Linked DNA regions of Homo sapiens: all the other regions are reported to be linked to region 3. The links are microRNA targets in miRTarBase. Many come from high-throughput screens and were not tested one by one. Region 3 holds a microRNA gene; each other region holds the end of a gene's coding sequence.
The links. The annotated mature microRNA hsa-miR-340-5p reads UUAUAAAGCAAUGAGACUGAUU and lies in region 3 at 3,580-3,601, shown strand. An mRNA with a match to its seed (bases 2 to 7 or 8) in the 3' UTR can be bound and repressed. Matches are read on the target gene's strand: a 7mer-m8 pairs with bases 2 to 8, a 7mer-A1 pairs with bases 2 to 7 and ends in A, and an 8mer does both.

Region 1: miRTarBase lists GALNT3 as a target of hsa-miR-340-5p. Seed matches in the 3' UTR shown: 7mer-A1 at 2,179-2,185.
Region 2: miRTarBase lists MED17 as a target of hsa-miR-340-5p. Seed matches in the 3' UTR shown: 8mer at 6,579-6,586 and 7mer-A1 at 6,183-6,189.

What each region holds. Positions count from the first base shown.
Region 1 is chr2:165,742,937-165,750,240 of GRCh38, reverse strand. It overlaps GALNT3 (polypeptide N-acetylgalactosaminyltransferase 3), which reads left to right. Exons shown (of 11, transcript NM_004482.4): 10 at 347-499; 11 at 1,338-2,653. The coding sequence ends at 1,460. Among named protein-coding and RNA genes, the nearest start is that of GALNT3, 48 kb to the left of the region's middle.
Region 2 is chr11:93,811,559-93,818,805 of GRCh38, reverse strand. MED17 (mediator complex subunit 17) reads right to left here. Exons shown (of 12, transcript NM_004268.5): 12 at 3,843-6,953. The coding sequence ends at 6,742. It overlaps VSTM5 (V-set and transmembrane domain containing 5), which reads left to right. Exons shown (of 4, transcript NM_001144871.2): 4 at 1-574. Among named protein-coding and RNA genes, the nearest start is that of MED17, 31 kb to the right of the region's middle.
Region 3 is chr5:180,011,962-180,018,961 of GRCh38, reverse strand. MIR340 (microRNA 340) reads left to right here and starts at 3,565; the gene lies at 3,565-3,659. It overlaps RNF130 (ring finger protein 130), which reads left to right. Exons shown (of 9, transcript NM_018434.6): 3 at 5,651-5,901.

The DNA.
Region 1 (7,304 bases), not on the chromosome of region 3:
GATGGAACACTTGTGGGAGAGAGGCAATTAATGTTCTTGTTATAACTCTTCATTCCCTTTTCTGAGGAATGCCTGGGATAGCCTCCACTCTCCTTGATAACTTCCAACTTCTGGTATGGGGAGGAAGACAGCACCTTGTTAATGAAGTAACCACCTGTTGATGAAGGAAGGCTATTGTATCGTCTATCACAAAAACTCAGCTTATGTTTCTAATAACTATTTTTATTGTATTATTTTGTTGAAATAGAAATGACTTTATTATTTAACGAGTTGCTGATTTATTTATTTATTTTGCAACTGAGCACATGGGTTGCTTTTGTCAGTAACAGTGCTATTCCTTCCATAGTACTTTGAATACTCTGCTCAACATGAAATTCGGCACAACATCCAGAAGGAATTATGTCTTCATGCTGCTCAAGGTCTCGTTCAGCTGAAGGCATGTACCTACAAAGGTCACAAGACAGTTGTCACTGGAGAGCAGATATGGGAGATCCAGAAGGTACCTCAGTGCAATTAATTCATCTATTTAACTATTTTTCTTAGCTCTACTTGCTTATCTGGGAAAATGAGTGGAACATGGTACATTAATATTATCTATCAGAATTTCTCTCCCTTTATTAACTTTGTTATTATGTGTTTCTACCCATGTGATAAGAGAATATATCTATGAATTAAGTACTCTTAGTAACAAAAAATTAAGTTGCTTGGTTGAACCGTGATATATGCAGATGAGCACTTCTGTGAATTATTAATATTAGTCGCTTGTTTTTTACTATTTAGGGTTTCTTATAATGCTTTTAGCAACAGTCATATTTTTTTTCTGTCAGAGAGAAGAAAAATTATTATATCTTCTCACTTGAAGTGATTAATTTTTTTCTACCCTGTTTTAGCACTTTTTCACAAACCTAGAATTGAGAGAATACATAACAGGTCTCTTCTGTTTTTAAACATGTTTAAGGCTTAGCTGTATCATAGCAATTCTTACCTGAACATTGTTTTGTGCAGTACTAGAAAACGTTAACACTGGCTTTTATAATTTATGATGTTTTTAAGAGTTTGTCACTTATGGATATATCAAGGGAATACTTCTTGTTTGAAAATGTGATTCAAACCTTGTTCTGTCTGCCTCTCTTCATTATGTAATATCTTACTAATTGAAGAGTAGTAGCTTAAAAGGTGGCATTTACACTAGAAGCCAAAAAGAGTTTATCAGACATGGCTCACCTTAGAAAGATTTGCTATTAGGTTTGCTTCAATGAAACCATAAAATCTTTTTCATATTTGTCACTTAACTATGAGTCTTGGAATTTAATGTCTGTTGTTTCCTTTTATTCTAGGATCAACTTCTATACAATCCATTCTTAAAAATGTGCCTTTCAGCAAATGGAGAGCATCCAAGTTTAGTGTCATGCAACCCATCAGATCCACTCCAAAAATGGATACTTAGCCAAAATGATTAAGTGTTCCTTAAAATTAAGTTGAAAAAGGAAATATTCTTTCTCATAAAACTGTGACTAGGCATACACTGTAGTTTTTGAAAATTATGCAAAAGCAGCTAAATGTAACTTATTCCAAGTGCATTTTTCTTATTTATATCTTTATGTAGCACTACTACAGAAATTCTGCAAGTTTCTGTTTCAAAGCACAATAACTAGTAATACCAAAGACTATTTCAAAATGTCCAGATGTAGGGGAAGAGATGTTTACAGTATGATGAAAATAATTTTCCAAGTAAAGTGATGTTTGTGTGTTTTGTACACTTAGGGATATATATATATAGCTACATTCACACACTCACAATTTAAAATATTTCCCCTAGTTTTTTGGGGGGATAGGAAGAAAGATTTGTTACTGTATTTTTTTAACTACATAAAAATAGATCAATAAATGTCAGCATTGGCCTCTGTGTACAAACCAAGAGCTTTTACAGATCCAGAATTTATTAGTTTAAAATGCAGGTGAACTTTTTTTTGCGTTTGGTTTACTTGTCTGTCAAATGTTTCCTTAAACATGAAACTGAATAAGGAGAAGAGTATTTTTAACACTTAAATTTCTTGGCAAATTTTAAAACATTTTTTAGTCTGTAATACACTCCACTTGAAGCACTTAAGTCTTCCTTAAATGACTTTTCTTAAGTAATGATACTGTGTGTTTTCCCAAAGCACTTTTAAAAAAATTTTTATAAATTACTATCTGTTGAAAAGGTGTCCTTTTCCTTTCTTCTAGTATTTTTTTCTTACCAAAATTCACTAATCTTGAATGTTTGTGATATTAAATTTCAAATGCAGAATACTTGACTCATTTAAAGCTAAATTTTGTTACTGATTCAATTATAATTGTAATGGATTTTTGACTTTGTAATGGATTCTTTTCATCAAAAAGCCTTATTTTTTTATCTATGTGGAAAACACAATAAAAAATCCTCAACACTATTGTAATCATTTGGTTAAGTTTTTTTCCTCTTTTGGGTAAAATCTGTAATTGATAATAGGTGGGGGAAAATGAATTTTGTATGCTGAATTTCTAAGCGCCTATTGTTTGTAAAACCATCAGATATTTCTTATGGCACAAAAAATGAGGAATAGCAAAATTCCTGTGTTCAATATTTAGAAAATTTTGTATTAATTTCTGATAAAGTTCCTTAAGCATCTGATAGAATGATGTTTTAAAAAAATTTGACGCTTGCTTAGGAGATTTACCACTTTTTTTTTTTGTTTTTCGTCATTTTATATTTAGATCTCCTGTATTCTTGTTCCCGAAGTAAAATACGATCGGTTTCATATTTTAAATCTGGCAGAGCCTCAGCTGTACGAAAAAGAGCATATACTGGTTATTGACCCTATCTTCTCATTGTTTGTTTGTAAGTTTGAATTTGTATTAAAAAGCCTGCATTCTGAGCTGGACATGGTGGCTCAGCTTCTAATCCCAGCACTTTGGTAGGCAAAGGTGGGAGGATCATTTGAGCTCAGGAGTTCCAGACCAGCCTGGGCAACATAGCAAAATCTCATCTCTACAAAAAGTAAAAATTAAAAAATGAAATTAAAAATAAAATTACCTAGGTGTGGTGGCACGCATCTGTAGTTCCAGCTATACAGGAAGGTGAGGCAGAAGCATTGCTTGAGCTTGGGAGATCGAGGCTACAGTGAGCTATGATTACACCACTGCACTTCAGTCTGTGTGACTGAGCAAGACTCTTTCAAAAAAAAAAAAAAAAGCCTACATTCTCCAGTTGATTATTTCAACTAATGTGTATTATGTGCCTAATTTTCTATCAGAAGTTGTATTAGCCCGTTTTCACACTGCTGTTAAAGACATACCTGAGACTGGGTAATTTATAAAGAAAAATAGGTTCGATGGACTCACAGGTCCGCGTGGCTGGGGAGGCTTCACAATCATGGCGGAAGGTGAAAGGCATGTCTTACGTGGAGGGAGACAAGACAGAATGAGAACCAAGTGAAAGTGGTTTCCCCTTATAAAACCGTTAGGTCTCGTGAGACTTACTCACTACCACAAGAACAGTGTGGGGAAAACCACCCCCATTATTCAATTATCTACTACTGGGCCCCTCTCACAACACGTGAGATTTATGGGAGCTACAATTCAAGATGACATTTGGTGGGAACACAGCCAAACCATATCAGAAGTGATGGTAGGCAGAGTAAGACTTGTTATTACTTTTGAGCTATGTCTCATGGGTCAGAAAGAAAGGCAAATAATTTTAAAGTAGAAGGTAAGTACCACTAGGCATGAATATCTATGAGCATATATTTCTCTTAGAGCTTATTATATCTCTAAACACAAAATTATTTCTCAAAAATATTTCATAAATGAACTTAAACATATTTTCAAAAAAACCAAAGTGAGTGCCCTGCATGTATCACTCATATGTTGATATATCATGATCCAACTGAAATCTACTTAGAGTAGGTTGATATTATTATGGGAAAGTCCTTCTTACCTGATTTGGCAGCCTCAGGCTATTGCTCAAGTGTCATACAAATCATGTCATTAAGGACTGGACCTTTAGGGTAGGTAGTGCCTTTTAAAAGTCTTGAGTTTTGGAACAATGATAACCGAGAGTTATTTATGGAACCTGGCTGCCATCCACCTGAGACTTAACTGCACTCAAGTGTGAAATTGTGGAATTCTTGCTCAATTTGAAGCTGCCATGGCAAATGGTCTGGTTGCTACAGAAGACCTGGCATGCTGCCTTCATTCCAGAGCACCAAGTCCTAAGAACTCTCGGTTGGTAAGCTGCACTGCCAGATCCACTAGGGTTAACCTGATGGGCAAGTTCACTGAAATCTGAGAGGGGATCACAGAGTTAACTATAGGAGAAAATAAGCAACACACTAAAATTGCCCATTACTATAACCAATGATGATGGATTTTTTAAGCCCCTATATTACCAGAGACTAGTATTGGACAATTTAGTTAAGTACTTTATATACCATCAAAATATAAGTGCAAAAAGGACAAGGTTGACTTTATCGGAAGGACTAGAAAAAAATCATTTTTAAAATGCTGTTATGTGTAGATGAGAATTGTAAAAGATAGGGAAAACAAAAAACTAGGCAGATTCTGTACTCAGATTGCTTCACAATTCACTTTAAAGACAGCAGAAATAAATATCTTTAGACAATGCATTTTTAGTATGCTTTGTGCAAGGAAGATGTTTGCAGAACTCTCAGAAACCAGTTCATACTCAGATAAAAGGCCTTGGGCCCTACAAAAGAATATCTGTGAAGGAATTAATACACATACAAATGTGGCATTGTGTGTGTGTGTGTGTAGTGTGTATGTGTGTGTGTGTAGTGTGTATATTTTAAATTAAAATATTTGACATCTTTTTATGAATTTATATTTTAATTACCTTTTCCAAATTATCAACCTACCCAATCTTCCCTTTTCCAGTCCTACAGTCCTACTTTTTCCACATCACCAGCCCAACTGCAAAAGAGATTCCTCCTGCACGCCTAGTCCCTCTCGCTCTCTAGGCTTCCACAACACCTAGGAAATTTTTTGTGTCTGTTTTTGGGATTTTATTAGGCACCAGGCACTAATAATATACAAAATAGTCCCCATCTGAAGGCGGAGAAAGTTATAGTTTAGTAATGTGGTCACCAATGTGGTCTCATAATGATGTTTTAAAGAGAAATAGTCCCATGATGAAGTCAACATATTCAACTTCTGGTGAGTCCACTGACAGGAGCTAGAGGAGAAAACAGGCACCCCATATTTTAGAGGTAAATAATTGAAGTAATGCTTCTTAAACCTTTTTGTACACACAATAATAAGATTCTGATTGATTAAGAATCAATCAGTTTGAATAAGATTTTGATTCATTAAGAATCAATCAGATTGAATAAGATTCTGATTAAGAATCAATCAGATTGAATAAGATTCTGATTGATTAAGCCTGGGGTAGAGCTTGTAATTTTGTATTTCTGACAAACTTTCAGGTGATACCAAAGCGGCTGGCCCTGGTACCGCGCTTTGAATAGAAAGGCTACCCAGTGAACCAATGCCCAGGGTTCTTCGAGACTACCATGATGACTTTGACCATGCTTGACATCCATAATTACTTCTAGTACGACCAGAAGTCAATGCCTCTCTATCAACCATTATCATCATTATTCTTCCCTGGCAGATCCTACATCCTTTGTATATCTCTAAGTTGATAAATCCCCCACCTTCTGATAACCTTCTACTCTGCAAACTTCTTTGATTAGAAAACTCTATTATATCAGCAATTTTGTCTCTGAAAATTCTACGTATTGTCTTGCCTTAACTGAACTGGACATTAATTAAGGATAAATCTTCCAATTCTAGTGAGGGTTATTGTTTTTTGTTTTTGTTTTCTATCATTCCTCTTGCACTTCAAGGCTAGGATTTGGGATAGGTGTGTCCTTCTTCAAAAATGCCCCAGCTTATTTGAAGCCGTGTCATGTGGATATATTATGCTCTACCCCTTCGTGCTGCTGTCAACCATGAATTTATAGGTCATTTATCTTAATTCATTCCCTGCATTAATTGAATACTTTAGTTCCTGTTGGCCTTTCTTTCTTTATACCTCTACTTGTGTCACCCTATGGGTGACTTCATTATTGGTGCAGATAACTCCAGCATTCTGAGCTCTCTGTATTTGACAACCACATTTCCTTCCCTCAACCACACATTCCCTGGTCATCACTAGAAACTATATCTTCTCTAACATCTTGATCACCTTAACGTCTCTGACTACCACCTCCTTTCCTAGCTCATTTATGCTAGTTCTTGCTCTCTAGAAACTTTTTCTATCTCTTCAGGACTTCTAAACCATTGATTTTGCTACTTGTTCACTATCATTCTCCTCTAGTCTATACTTTTATTCTTATCCAGAATGGTTTTAATATTTCCTCATTGTAACAATGACAGTGAAAGAGTTCACTGTCAATTCATGTGTCTGTTTCTCCATCGTGCTTACCTAGAAAACCCCAAACCCTGGATAAACCAAAATATTTGCTACCACTACTTCTGCATCCAAACAATTGTCAGGCTGGGCACATTCACCATCTTTCTGGGGAAATCCTGTATCCTCTCTCTCTTTCATATGTTAGGTCTCCTGTTTTGTGTATACTATAACTTCCTCTTTCTTGGTTAACTTCCTCATTTTGGAGGAGTACATTACACAGTAATATTCTGGGGAACGGTTTAGGATGCATACAGTTTTTGAGACCCTTATATCCAAAATACCTGTATTCTACCCTCACAATTAGAAGGTTAGCTGAGTATAGATTTCTTGGATGGATTTTTTTTCAATATTTTAAAAGTTTTGTTTGTTTGTTTTTCTAAATTTCAGTATTGATAACTCCAGTCTATTTTTGATTCTTGGTTCTTTGTTAGTGATTTTATTATTTTCACTCTGAATACTTATAGATATCCTATTTGCCACAATGTGTTAAATTTCACTGTAAGTCTTATATTACAGTATGCTTTACTGTGCTCTTTAAATACTCACGTAATTAAATTATGAAATCTTTTCCAAATATTTATTAATTTTATCCTTTGTATTCTCAGTTTCTCTCTGGGAATCTTATTATATCAGACCATTAACATATTGATTCTCTAGTCTATATAGGAGGGCAGCTTTTCTGATCTATATTCCGTATCTTTGCATATCCAGGATGTATTCTTAATGTACTCCTTTAAGCCTTCTATTGAGTTTTTCTTTTCTGTCATTTGTAATTTCCAAAAGCACATTCTTGTTCTCTGAATTTTTCTTGAATACCACTATTATTTTGTGAATGTGATTTTTTTCTTTT
Region 2 (7,247 bases), not on the chromosome of region 3:
AAGAAACGAGGTGAGCAGTATCCAAGGGGCTCAAGGATAATCTGCTGATTTCTTTCTTGTCTTTCACACAGAGAGGCCACCAGCAGGAAAGCAGTGGGAGTTGGGTAGCTGCTGGGGCCAGCATGTCCTCTTCCACACTACCTGCCTTTCAGAACTCTGCTCTTCCGCTTGTCCCGAAGTCAGGGCTGGCAATCTTCATAATCAAAGGGGAGTTGGAAAAGAACACCCACTAAGAGGCCTCCATGGCAGATGTCAATTAAATTGCCCCCCCGCCCAAATCTCATGACAGTTTATTCACATCAGTAGTGTGGGAAGTTACAATGTTTTTTTTAAAAAAAGCTTCTTTCCTTGGCTTTCCATTTCTTTGAAAAAAGGGTTTCTTTTGAATTTTTAAAGCTCTGCCATACTGAACATTCCTGTGGAAAGGTTTAAAATGCAGAGCCTGAGGTTTTTGCTTTTCAGAAAAATAAAAATCTTAGAGATTAGCTAGTGTAAATGTTAAGCTATAAATTATATTTCAAACTGTGAAAAAAAAAAGTTTTAAAGAATGAATGAAATAAAACCTGAAAATAAAGCCCTGGTCCTTTGTGTGTGTGTCTGCTCCTGCCAAGAAATCAGAGGCTCTGGGTGCTGTGTCCTGTCAGGCTGAGCATAAACAAAACCCTTAATCACAGTCAGGTCTGGCACATATTTTAAGTGACAACGCAACTAATTACACTGGTTCTAACAGTAAACATTATTTAGCAATTCAGAAAAACTACACCTTATCAGCACCACCATTCTCCCCCAATTGTAGCCAGAAGACCAATTTGAAATTTATGCTTTCAGAATATTAACTGTAATTCAATAGCATTCTTCCTGCTTCTGGAATGGGCCAAAAGTAGGATGTGATAATTGTACCACTTGTTCAGCAGTGGATAAGATACCCTACAGAACACACATGCTTTGTCAACAGAATGTCCTTTCAGAGGTTATGATCTTAGAACCCCAAAAGGTATATACTGTACTTTCTCATTTCATGGTGTTCCGTGTATGCAAGGAGAGCTCATGTCCTCTGAAGGCCACATAAGATGGTAAATACCTGAGAGCACTTCATGCATACTCTGATTTGAAGCAATACCTCACAAAGGTGAGAAGCTAAGGCAGTGAGAGAGGTTATCAGGATATCTTGCCCCAGGCAAGAATGCAGAGACAAACCCTACAATTCTGAAGAGCTGGGTAAGTGTTAACAAGGGATTGAGAAGAGATGGCAGAACAGAATGCTGGAGATGTAACCAGGAACAAGGAGCCAAATATGACAGGGTGAATCCCCAGGGACGTGATTCACGTGCTGCCTCCTTGACAACACTGGGGAGGATACTGGGGGAAGTGGAAACCATCTCACCGGCATCAGCTTTTACATATCCAGCATAGGTTTCTTCTGCCCAGTTTCCAGGGAAGCATCAGACACATCCATAGTTTACTAAAAGCAGAGCAAATCCTTGTGATCACTGTTAGCACATCTATCCCCAACTCAATATCCACTAATGGTGTGAGTTGCCAGAGCTTGCATCTCTCTGCACCCCTGAATCCACCCAACCTGGCTGTCAGCTTTTCCAATTCTTGAGAACATTTCCACTGCCCTTTAAAAATTAAGTGGGTATTTTTGGTTTGGCTTAATTACAGAGGTGATAAATCCTTCTTTAAAATTCAGATAGCACTAAAGTCTATATATATTAAAGTATCTTTGGCTAGAGTTAATTAACAAAAACTAAATAAAGTAAAAGATCTCTCTCCTTCCCTCAATCCAGAGGAAACAATAGTCGAATTTGGTGTGTATCCTTCTAGACTTGCTTATGCATATATGAACATATCTGTGTATATATATGCCAAATATACATATTTATCCTATTTTCTTTCTAGTCAAATGGGATTCTATCATATATATTACCCTACAACTCACCAGTCTTTCCTTAATGTGTCGGGAATTATTTCATGTCTACCTATTCCAAAACTTCATTCTTCTTGCCTGCACAATGCAGTCTATAGTATGAATACACTATTTTTTTTTTTTTTTTTAAAGAATTTTGCTCTTGTCACTCAGGCTGGAGTGCAGTGGTGCCATCTCAGCTCACTGCAACCTCCGCCTCCCAGGTTCAAGCGATTCTCCTACCTCAGCCTCCCAAGTAGCTGGGATTACAGGTGTGCACCACCATGCCTGGCTAATTTTTGTATTTTAGTAAAGACAGAGTTTCACCATGTTGGTCAGGCCAGTCTCGAACTCCTGACCTCAGGTTATCGGCCTACCTCAGCCTCCCAAAGTGCTGGGATTATGGGCATGAGCCACTGCGCCGGCTGGGTTTTTTTTTTTGAATACACTGTAATTGTTCACTGAAAAATTACTTTTTATTTCAAATGATATATACAAAAATCATCTTAGGCAAACTTTCTATGTATCAGGCTAGTTCCTTCAACCAAGATGGTTTCCTCCTGTTAAGTAATGCATTCAACTCTACCTCCTGTGAATCTCTTAGTCTTTTAGGGAATTCCATGTTCCACGATTTTGGTGGGTTTTACATAAAATTTATCAGAGATTGAGTATTGGTGGAAGAAAGGGTATTGATAATGTAAAATAAATCTGAAGTTTTAGTGTTAGATTTGGTTTTATAAAGTACACATTATCAAACCAAACTGGGGTCTGCTCATCTGGCACAGCAAAGCCAAGCACTGACGTTGGGACTGCAGCAAGAGGAAGTGAGGCATTTATTGTAGGGCACCAAGCAAGAACTCCAACTCCTCAATGGCTTACAGGTAAAGGTTTTAAAGGTGGGGAGGCAAGCCTGGGTACAATGGTTCACACCTGTAATCCTAGCACTTTGGGAGGCCAAGGTGAGAGTATCCCTTGAGCTGGTTTGAGATGAGTCTGGCCAACATAGTGAGACCCTGACTCTATAAAACATTTTTAAAAATCAGACAGATGTGTTGGTGTATACTTGTAGTCCCAGCTACTCAAGAGGCTGAGGCAGGAGGATTACTTGAACCCAGGAGGTTGAGGATGCAATGAGCAGCTGATTGCACTACTGCACTCTAGCTTGGGTAACAGAGCAAGACCCTGTCTCAAAAAACAAAAACAAGAAAACCCCAAAAAACCCACAAAGGTGGAGAGGCAGAGGTTACAGGCAAAGTCATAAATCAATACACGGAGGCTATATATTGGTTTGATGTAAAAGGTGGGACATCTTGAAGTAGGGGCCAACAGGTCATAGGTGGATTCAAAGATTTTCTGATTTGCAATTGGCTAAGGAGAAGCTTTGTCTAAAATTTGGGTCAACAGAAAAGAATGTTAGCTCCAGCTCACAGGCATGACCTCCTCCAGGCCCCTCGGGAAAAAATTCAGAACAAAGAACGGCAGCCCAAGTTGTCCTTGCTTATCTGAGGTCTACATGCCAGCAAATCCACTTGGTGGGGATCTGAGATTCTGAAAACAACTCAGGGACATATTTTAAGATGTTATCTTTAGTTTCTATAGGGAACCAAGCATCTGGACTCTTAACTTCCTTGGCAATTGTTTTAAACTACACTTACCTTCTTGCTTATCAAGTTGCTTATTTACGTCTCAGCACTACCCTGGAAATTCCCTCAAAGGAATTCAAGATTTTCCTTTATTTTCAGGCTCAGGGCGCCCACAGGCCTTTAAGAAGGGGTCCCGGCTCCATCTCACACACATAGGTAGGTTAAATTCCTTTGATGTTACAGGCTAGTGCTTGCCCAGGTAGTTCTGTCTGTACAAATATTTTTCCCTTGGGTACCTCATGTTCTGAATGGATTTTTTTCCAACTAAACAAAGTGAACTTACTAAATAATGTAGTTGCCCCTGTTTTTATTCATCAGCAATACCTAAGGAGGCCAGGCATGGTGGCTCATACCTGTAATCCCAGCATTTAAGGGCCAATTACAATTCCTGATCAACATGAGATAATCAGGTTATCCCTTTGATTTGATGGTGTTCCAGCAAAGAAATCTGATGAAAAACACTCAATATCTTCACCATATATAAAACATCATACAAATATGAATACAGGACATTCTGAAATGCTTTCTCCTAATAAATACAGCTGGTGTCTCAACCATTTTTTCTAATTGGCTTGACTCTTAGAAGCACACTTGCTTAATGCTTTATATTTATGTAGTACTTTAGAATTTAACATTTATTACCAACGTTACTGAAACTTCTCAATCACCACTGAGGTTAGTAGAGGAGGCACCTCTATCTTCATTTATATATAAGGAAACAAGTTCACAGAGAATCCTTGCCAAGTTCATACAGCAAGCCAGTAGCAGAGCCAAGATTCAAACACAGCTCCTTGCCAACCTGTTAATACTTGTTGAGGGGCTAATTGGTTTTCTTCAAACTGTCTCCCAAGTTTCCATAGCACATCCTTCAAACTCCAGGAAATTCAGGTTAAAACATTAAACTAGAAAATGTAAATAAATACAAGGCATAAGAATTGCTACCACAGCAACTAAGCTACCATTTTCCCACACATTTGCTTTAGTTTCTACAATTCTTTAGGTCGGTACTGGCTACTCACTACAGCGACGTACCAAACAGGGAAAGTAAGACATGAAGAACGTAAAGTCTTCAGTTATCCCACTCTACTCAGATGGGGTTTAAAAGAACAGACGGTAGTATCTGCACATGTATTCTCAGCCATTCTACTCAAGGTGTGGTCCTGGTCCATGATTTGTTACTGATTCATGACAAGCAGAGAAATAAAAAATAAAGCATTCAGAAATGTTTATATTTGGGGGGGCTGGGCACTGTGGCTTATGCCTGTAATCCTAGCACTTTGGGAGGCCGAGGTGGGCGGATCAATTGAGGCCAGGAGTTCAAGACCAGCCTGGCCAAGATGGCAAAACCCTCTTATCAAAATTACAAAAATTAGACGGTCGTGGTGGCACACACCTGTAATCCCAGTTACTCGGGAGGCTGAGGCATGAGAGTCATTTGAACCCAGGAGGCAGAGGTTGCAGTGAGCCAAAACAGTGCTGCTGCACTCCAGCCTGGGGAACAGAGTGAGACTCTGTCTATAAATTCTAGTATTTGATGCAATTTAATCAAGTTATAATCAAATAAATGGGGCTTTTATTTTGTATCTTTTCAAAATTTCATTTTAGGAATTCATTTTTATTAGTTTACCAAAGTATCAATCTGCAATGGGAGAAGTTTATATAAACAAAAACTGGTCATTCAGCAAAAGTCTCAGACTCACTCTTCTAGCCTGAGCCTTCAAAATCACATAAAAGACTCCTTATGTGAGTGGAATTGTGCAGATTAGCCTATTGACCAAGGCAAATTTTGCAGGCAACAATAATTTTTGAAGCACTCAAGATTTTTAAATAACTGCAAATTCATACCAATTATTTTAATTTCCATGGATAGAAAGATGCAAGATCTTGATCAGAAGGGGAAAAAAGCACAAAGTTGTTCTATCGTGGCCCACAAGCTCCATTTTTCTTTAATGAAAACACGGTGGAGAAATACAAAGGACTTTTATTACTGCACAGTCATCTTACAAATTGTTAAAGCAGGATGTCTGTTTTAAAAATTGAAAGCCTTACTTATAAGGAGAGCTTGCCTATATGATACTACTTTCAGTGTTACCAAAAGGCTTATGAGCCTAAATCTATCCTCATATTAATGGGCACACTTTAGGCACTTTTTCCAAGAAGTGCAAACCTGTTCCTTGGAAAAGATAACCCACTAATCCATTAGTTTTTTCGCTTTGAAAAAGCAGAGAGCTGATGGAAAGGCCTTAATTGGAGAAAGCAATCCAGGGCTGCTGGGTGGAGGCTGGAGAATCCCAGGTGGAAGGCTGGGCATGAGCCATACACTAGGTGTCTCAACTGGTGAGGTCAATCAAGTGGGAGAACAGACCAAAAAAACTTGAGGACGCCCTAAAGAGATAATCTGCCTCCTATTGCCTTCAGCTGTCCTTTCTGAGGATGTTCTTAAATTACCTATGTAGGTTAGACCCAGGAAAGCTTAAAGGAGACAACTGGAGGAAGAGGTTATCAATAATTTAGAGTAGGCTGGGCATGGTGGCTCACGCCTGTAATCCTAGCACTTTGGGAGGCAGAGGCAGGTAGATCACTTGAGCCGAGTTCGAAACCAGCCTGGGCAACATGGAAAAACCCTGTCTTTATAAAAAATACAAAAATTAGCCAGGCGTGGTTGTGCATGCCTGTGGTCCCAGCTACTCGGAAGGCTGAGACAGAAGGATCACCTAAGCCTGGGAGGTCAAGACTGCAGTGAACCATGATCACACCACTGCACTCCAGACTGGGCTACAGAGTGAGATACCATCTCAAAAAAAAAAAGTTTAGAAAGTATTTGGGGGGAAAAAAAGGTATTTGGAGATTTTTTTAAACCACATACTTTATTTGATGTCAACATCAAAGAAGGAATATTTTAAAAAGCACATAGAAACCCTTAAGTTAGTAATATTTTAAACTGCATGAAAAACATATTATTTTACATCTTGTCATACTGTATATACAACTGTACATAAACTTCTGCATTTCAAAGCACTTGTCATTTATAAAGTGAAAAGTTTGAAAGTGCTAAATAAACATTTCCTAATTATTATTTTTAAAAACAGCACTCTTTTGGAAGTTATCTCTTCTTTGTGCTTATAGTTGATCTGCAAACATTTCAAGTCAAAGTTTCTGGAAACTTCTTTAGGAAACATCTGGAAAAAATCATAGTAGACAAGGGCTAAGTGCAGACATAAGCAGCTCCATTTTATAAACAAAATTTCGACCTTCCATTTTATTCCACTGAACTTCTTTGAATGGCCCACGAAGATGACTCCATTTGTTATCTTGTAAAACATCACTTTTTGGAAGGTCTTTACATTGGTTACGAGGAAACTGAACCATAATCTTGCTGCCACTTTCAGGTCCATTACGAACTGTGGAGAAAAACCAAAATATCAATACACTCTAGTTTACCAAACTAGAAATAACAAGGATAAATCCCACAACTCCATTCTACTGTGAATACAAAAACTTTGTCTACCAACTTAAATATTCTTGTAAAAAAGTGCTTTTTCAGTTTCAACATGCAAGAGAAAAACTCTAACTTCTATATAAGAGGATGGTATAAATATTCATGAATTATTATTTGTACCACAAAGATTAAGCAAGGTGAGTTTTGACCTAGGAATGTCAAATGTCCTCTATAATTTCAGGAAATCATCTTTTTG
Region 3 (7,000 bases):
CCTGGTGCCTCAGACAGCTCATTTGTTCTCTTCCTGGATCTTCCTTTATCAGCTGCTCAGCTACACTGGGCTTGCCCCGGGGTTTACTCCCAGGAGGAGTGGAGGGAAGCCAAGAGGGTGAGGGCATAGATCAGACTCTTCCCAGCTGGGTAGACTCACTTTCTAAACTAAAGCATAAATTCTTTTGTAGCTGGCAGGACTGTGTTGGTCAGCAGATCCCTGGGCATTTTCTGAGCAGTGGGCAGGGGGCGAAGAGAGAATGGGCATCCAAAAATCTGTGGTTAGAGGCCTTTTGATTTTCTTCCCACAACATTTTCTTTTGCTTTCTGTGAGTAATAATACAAGTAGGATTAGCTCATCATATGGTTTGGCTCTGTGTCCCCACCCAAATCTCACCTTGAATTGCAATCCCTATAATCCCCACATGTCAAGGGTGGGACCAGGCGGAGGTCATTGAATCATGGCTAGTGAGTGAGTCTCATGAGATCTGATGGTTTTATAAGCATCTGACATTTCCCCAACTTGCACTCGTTCTCTCTCCTGCTGCCCTGTGAAGAGGTGCCTTCTGCCATGATTGTAAGTTTCCTGAGGCTTCCCTAGCCATGTGGAACTGTGTGTCAATTAAACCTCTTTTCTTTTTTTCTTTTCTTTTCTTTTTTTTTTTTTTGAGATGGAGTCTCACTCTGTTTCCCAGGCTGGAGTGCAGTGGCACAGTCTCGGCTCACTGAAACCTCCACCACCCTTGTTCAAGCAATTCTTCTGCCTCAGCCTCCCGAGTAGCTGGGATTACAGGCGCCTGCCACCACACCCAGCTAATTTTTGTATTTTTAGTAGAGATGGGGTTTCGCCATATTGGCTAGGCTGGTCTCAAACTCCTGACCTCAGGTGATCCATCGCCTTGATCTCCCAAAGTGCTGAGATTACAGGTGTGAACCACCACGCCCAGCCTGAACCTCTTCTTTCTCAATTACCCAGTCTCAGGTATTTATTTGTAACAGTGTGAGAACAGACTAATACAGCTCATTACGCTGCAGCAGTTACTGAACATCTGCTGTGAAGCCTGCAGGTAGTTTGTCATTTTTTGAAAGAAGAAACTGAAGTTCAAAGAGGTTAAAGTACCATGCTGGGATTTGAACCTAGACCCTCCGATTCCGGAGCCCAAAGGAGCTTAATTCTGAGGTTCCTTCTGTTGGCCTCTCAAAACTGATTTTGTAGTCAGGATTATAGCAGTATTATCATATTTTCCCACTTTTTTTCCTCATTAAAAAATAGAATTGATGGGGATGGGGGGCTCTTTTCCGAAAAACTGCCCACCCAGCATTTCTGTTTTTTTAATGGGAAACAAAGATAAGTAGAAAGTGTTGTTAATGCCTTTGATTATAGAATCAGTTTACAAAATGTAGAAGAAATCACAGCATTAGGGAATTAGAATTTTACAAATACCATTGTCGTAACAGATTCAGGCAAACACCAGTGGATGCTGAGAGCATTGAGTGAAAGGTTTTTGGGGAACTGGCTAGTCACACAATCTGGAAGTATCAGCCCACAGATTGCTTATTAATTAAGAGGAAAACATTTATTTACAGTGAGGAAACCTGGCAGATACCAAAATAACCAAGTCATAAAATTTGCCACCAAAAATAAAGGTACAACCCGGCCTGCACTTCCTGAAGTGACGAGCTGAGGAGGGACACGCCATCACCTTGTGGTATTCTTACTAGAAATATTTAATTTGGAGATCTAATCATTAGGAAACAGTCAAATCCAGATTGAGGGGCATGGTCAGAACATCTGGATTGGACTCTTTAAAAAGGTCAGTGTTGTGATGAATGGACCGGAAGTGACTGAGGAACTATTCTAGATCAAAGGAGACTAATGAGACATGACAGCTAAGCATGATGCCGACAGCCCCGATTGAATCCTGGACACAAAACTAAACAAGTTAAACAGCTATTAAAGTCATCACCACAGATACCTGAAAATGGACCATCTATTAAAGAACACAGGGTTAAATTTCTTGAGGATAAGTAAATGAATTGTGGCCACGTAGCTAGCCTTGTTCTTAGGAGGGACCGTGGAAGTATTTAAGAATAAAATGTCATGTGTTTGCAGTTTACTCTTAATTGGTTCAGCAAAAATAAATACATATAGAAAGGACAAAATGTTGACAAATCTAAATAAAAGGTCCATGAGTGTTCTCACAGTATTGGAACTGCTCTATGGGTTTGAAAATTCTCAGGATGAAAGTGGAAAGAATAGAATTGTTTATTAAAGTAGCCAGACTCAAGCAGTGTGGAAACAGAAGTTCCTGTTAAAGAATAACAGTGGGGGAAGTTTCTCAAGAAAATAGTTGGAAGCAGGGATCACAGATGGGCTTTCACTGGATTGCCATCTCTGACAGTTAGTACTGGCGGCCAGACGTGGAAGTGCGTGGGAGCGTGGCCGCATCCGTGACTTACTAGCAGTGTTTGCCCAGGGCCTGGGACATGGGAGTGGTGGGGCATGTCCCAAATGTGCTTTGATATTTACAGCGTTACAGTCTAATTATTCTTCACTCTTTTCAGTCACTGCCTCCTCTGACCGGCCCTTTATTGTGAAGCCTACATTTCCTTTGGCGTGAAACTGGGCCAGAGCTCCTCAGATCCTTAAAAGTCAAGTGTCTGAGGCAGCTTTAGGTCAGGGTCTTTGAGCCCTATCAGGCTTTAGGGGTGGAGTATGGGGAGAAGGCCCTTTCTCCTAGGAGGGGACTCCTATATAACTTTCGCCAGATTCTGTAAAAGATTTAAGACCTAAAACTCCAGTCCTTTGCAAGTTGGTGGCGGGCTTTCGTTCTGCTGTCCTCCTGCCCGATCGGCAGGGTCGGGCTCCTCTGCCCGGCTCTTCTCTGTGCTGGTGTAATGACGCCACCGCGAGCGGCTTCTCTTCCTAGTCCAAAAGGTTCCCCCTTTGCTCCTGAGGGCGTGTGGATTTTTGCATCAAGAGCAGGTAATTTTCTACTCTCTTTAAGAGGTGAAAGGAGCCTGATCATAGTATGTGCTCAATAAATATTGTTGAATGGATGGTTGAAATAATTACACACTTCTTTTCCCAAACAGCTTTCCCGTTGAAATTAGTTGGTGTTCTTATTTAGTGTTCTTTGAATAGAATCACATGGATTGGTTTCCTTGGCTACCTGTTCAGCTTTCCTTTCCCTACTCCTTTCCCTACTCCTTTCCTACTCCTTTTCCTACTCCTTTCCTACTCCTTTCCCTACTCCTTTCCCTACTCCTTTCCTACTCCTTTCCCTACTCCTTTCCTACTCCTTTCCTACTCCTTTCCCTACTCCTTTCCCTACTCCTTTCCCTACTCCTTTCCCTACTCCTTTCCCTACTCCTTTCCCTACTCCTTTCCCTACTCCTTCCCTACTCCTTCCCCTACTCCTTTCCTACTCCTTTCCCTACTCCTTTCCTACTCCTTTCCCTACTCCTTTCCTACTCCTTTCCCTACTCCTTTCCCTACTCCTTTCCCTACTCCTTTTCCAGCTTGAGTCTTCAAGAGGGAGCCTCAACTGATTTCTAAAACCGTTTGTACCTGGTGTGATTATAAAGCAATGAGACTGATTGTCATATGTCGTTTGTGGGATCCGTCTCAGTTACTTTATAGCCATACCTGGTATCTTATACCACAGATCATGGCCCGTTGAACAACATTTTAAGAGATTTCTAAAGGGAAATTTAAAGCGGTTTAGCATTATTTTGTGATTGTCTCTAATTTACTGATCACAACTCTTATTTCAGAAAGGTAATTAGATATTAATTAGATGTTTATTGCTTGCTTTAATTTTATAGTTTTTTGTAGATTTTTAATCGGTATTCTGGTAAACTGCTGTTCTAATAAAGTGGCTGTAACAATTTTGAGTAAGGTAGTAAAAAGGTATATGTTCCATTGGGTTACATTTTCCATAAAACTCCTTTTACTGTTGTATTTCTCTTCTTTTTTTTGAGGGTCTTGCTCTGTCACCCAGGCTGGCGTGCAGTGGCGTGATCTCAGCTCACTGCAGCCTCAACTTCCTGGACTCCAGTGATCCTCCCACCTCAGCCTCCTGAGTATCTGGGACCACAGACATGTGCCACCATGCCTAGCTAATGTTCCTGTTTTTGTGAGAGACAGGGTTTCACCATGTTGCCCAGGCTGGTCTTGGACTCCTGAGCTCAAGCAATCCACCTGCCCTGGCTTCCCAAAGTGCTGGGATTATAGGCATGAGCCACCACGCCCAGCCCTGTTGAATTTCTTTTCAGTTGCGTGTAGTCTTCTGTGACTGCATGTAACACAAAGATGGTTCTTTTAGCTAAATATGGTAAATGAAACATGTAAAACCAAATATTTCAATGTGTTATTCATTGAAGAAGGATTGAAAAGGACAAGTTTTGGGGACTTCTGCTTGATTGTTTTGTTGGTTTACATTGATATGTACAAACCTTATTCAAATTCAAATAAGTGGTTATAATTTTCTCTTTCCCAAAATAAAATATTTATTTCCCTTCTAATGACCCCTAGTCTCTCTCAGGGGCTCTCTGGAGAAGGCAAATGTAGAAGCTACATGTTGCCACCGGCAGCTTCAGCTTATGAAAGGACAATCGCTGATAGATTGATAGAAGTTTCTCTGTTTCCTTAAAAGACAGTGGGAAGTTATTTCCTTTGTGGAGGAGGAAAGGGATAGCAGTTTCCTGCTGTCCATAGGAAGAGGTATTCAATTCCTTCACTGTTACTACTTCTGGAAATTATGTAGGGGAAAGGTCTAGGTAACTATAAGGCAACTTAAGACTGTCCTCGTAATTAACTTGCATAGCCTGTGCTTGTGGGCAGACCTCTGGACAACTGTTAGAGGCTGGAGGTATTTCGATGCCAAACTGGTCCAGAATGTTGAAGCCTGGACCTGTCTCTGGAACGTTTGATTTCCAGAAGAGTTCTGGGGTAAACTAGCAAGGAGCCTCAACTCCACTCAAGTCTGGACATAAGACCCAAGTTAGTTTCAGATGTCACTAATAAAAGGTGGCACCATTTGGCACTTTGTAGCTCTGTTACCAGCTGTGTGTCCCCTGTCTCAGTGAGATTAGAAAGCTTGGTATCCTGTACTTGTTTTTGTTCCTGGCACTAGTTCTACAGACAGTGGGTACTCCATGAATGTTCCTAGATTAGTGCAAGAAGTACCAATTTATGCTATAAAAACAGCACTTTACTCCATTTCTTAAGGAATTAAGACTTTCTGAAGATCATTTTAAAATAGAAAAGGTTTTACAGTGTAAATCTACCATGATGTTGATACACTTCTCTTGCTGTATAATGTTATGTTGCTGTCTGTTGTCACATTTGGCTGGTTTAATAATCTTTTTTTAAAAATGTAGTTGTCAGACAAGTTAATATGGTTCTTAACACTGCAGTCGTTCTATGCCTTATGTCTGTTTAAGTCTTAAGTACCACACAACAAATTACATGTTCCTACTTGGTGCCAGCATACCCAGCTGCATCTACATTTCAGTTGAGAAGTGGAGTTTGCATACCCTTTCCATTACCAGACATTATAGTAGTTACCTAAGTAGCGTGTTGATACATTTGATGTTTCCATAAGTTTTAAATGTCACTTGAGTTATATATTTATTTTATATTGCAGGCACTGGAGATATTATTGCTGTCATGATAACAGAATTGAGGGGTAAGGATATTTTGAGTTATCTGGAGAAAAACATCTCTGTACAAATGACAATAGCTGTTGGAACTCGAATGCCACCGAAGAACTTCAGCCGTGGCTCTCTAGTCTTCGTGTCAATATCCTTTATTGTTTTGATGATTATTTCTTCAGCATGGCTCATATTCTACTTCATTCAGAAGATCAGGTACACAAATGCACGCGACAGGAACCAGGTGAGCTCAGTACTCAACAGTGATTGGTTCGTAACAGCCAGAGTTCACAGTCATCTGTCGTGACCATGCATCTTACTAACATGTTTTTTCTTTTAAAAAATGTTGTTACCCTCACTCAGTCATTTTAATATGTTGGAAACGTCTACATGAGTATTTAAGGGATATTTAAAATAACCTAAAAGGTACTAAATTTATTGTGATCACCTAGAATATTCTAGTCAGGTAGATAGCTTGATATCATAGTATTATCTAGATAATTCTGTTAATTTGGAGAAATAGCACAAAGTTGCATTTTTAAACCAGTAACTTTGGATGTTTCTGCAAATGGGAACTTGGAGGGGGGTTAGGGAGACTTCACTCTTCCCCTTCCTATGTGAAATTCTTTCCCATGTGAATTTTGAACTGGGAAAGTATTATCTATTCAGAAAATGAAATCAATGAAAAACCTCTGTCATCTAAGCTCAGACATGGGGTAAGGGTGAGTGGGGGAAGACCAATAGAAGATGTCTGTCTATGTAGTCATCCTAGGAGTTCCACTGACAGCGCATCTATTTTGGTTGAGTGAATAAACCTAGGAAAAGCAGTGTGCTTCCCCGGTGTGAGGGCCTGGAGATGGTGGCCCTCAGTTGGTGACTGAGTTTGATTGATGTGCTGTGGACAGAATACACACCCTAGGTGCCAGGTTCCAGGTGTTAGGTCCCTCTCCTAGACTTTTTGTGTAGAAAACTAAGAAGTGACTTGCTTGGAGAGTGATTTGAAGCCAGTTTTTGTATAACGCTGTCTTCTCCTAACATGGTACATTCAAATTCCTGTGGGGATGGGCACACTGGGATTTTTATCCTTCCTCTTTCTAGCGGAAAAAGCGCAGACTTTGGCATGGAACAGGTCTCAGCTCACATCCCTCCTGCACCACCAGTTCACCATGACCCCTCACCCTGTTGGACAGTTTCTTGAGCATCTCAGCTTCTTTCTCATCTGAAAGTAGATATAAAACACCCAAACGCTGACTGTGAAAGTAGATATAAAATACCCAAACGCTGACTGTGGAAGTACATATAAAATACCCAAACACTGACTGCAGTTTATTGAAGCTTTCTGT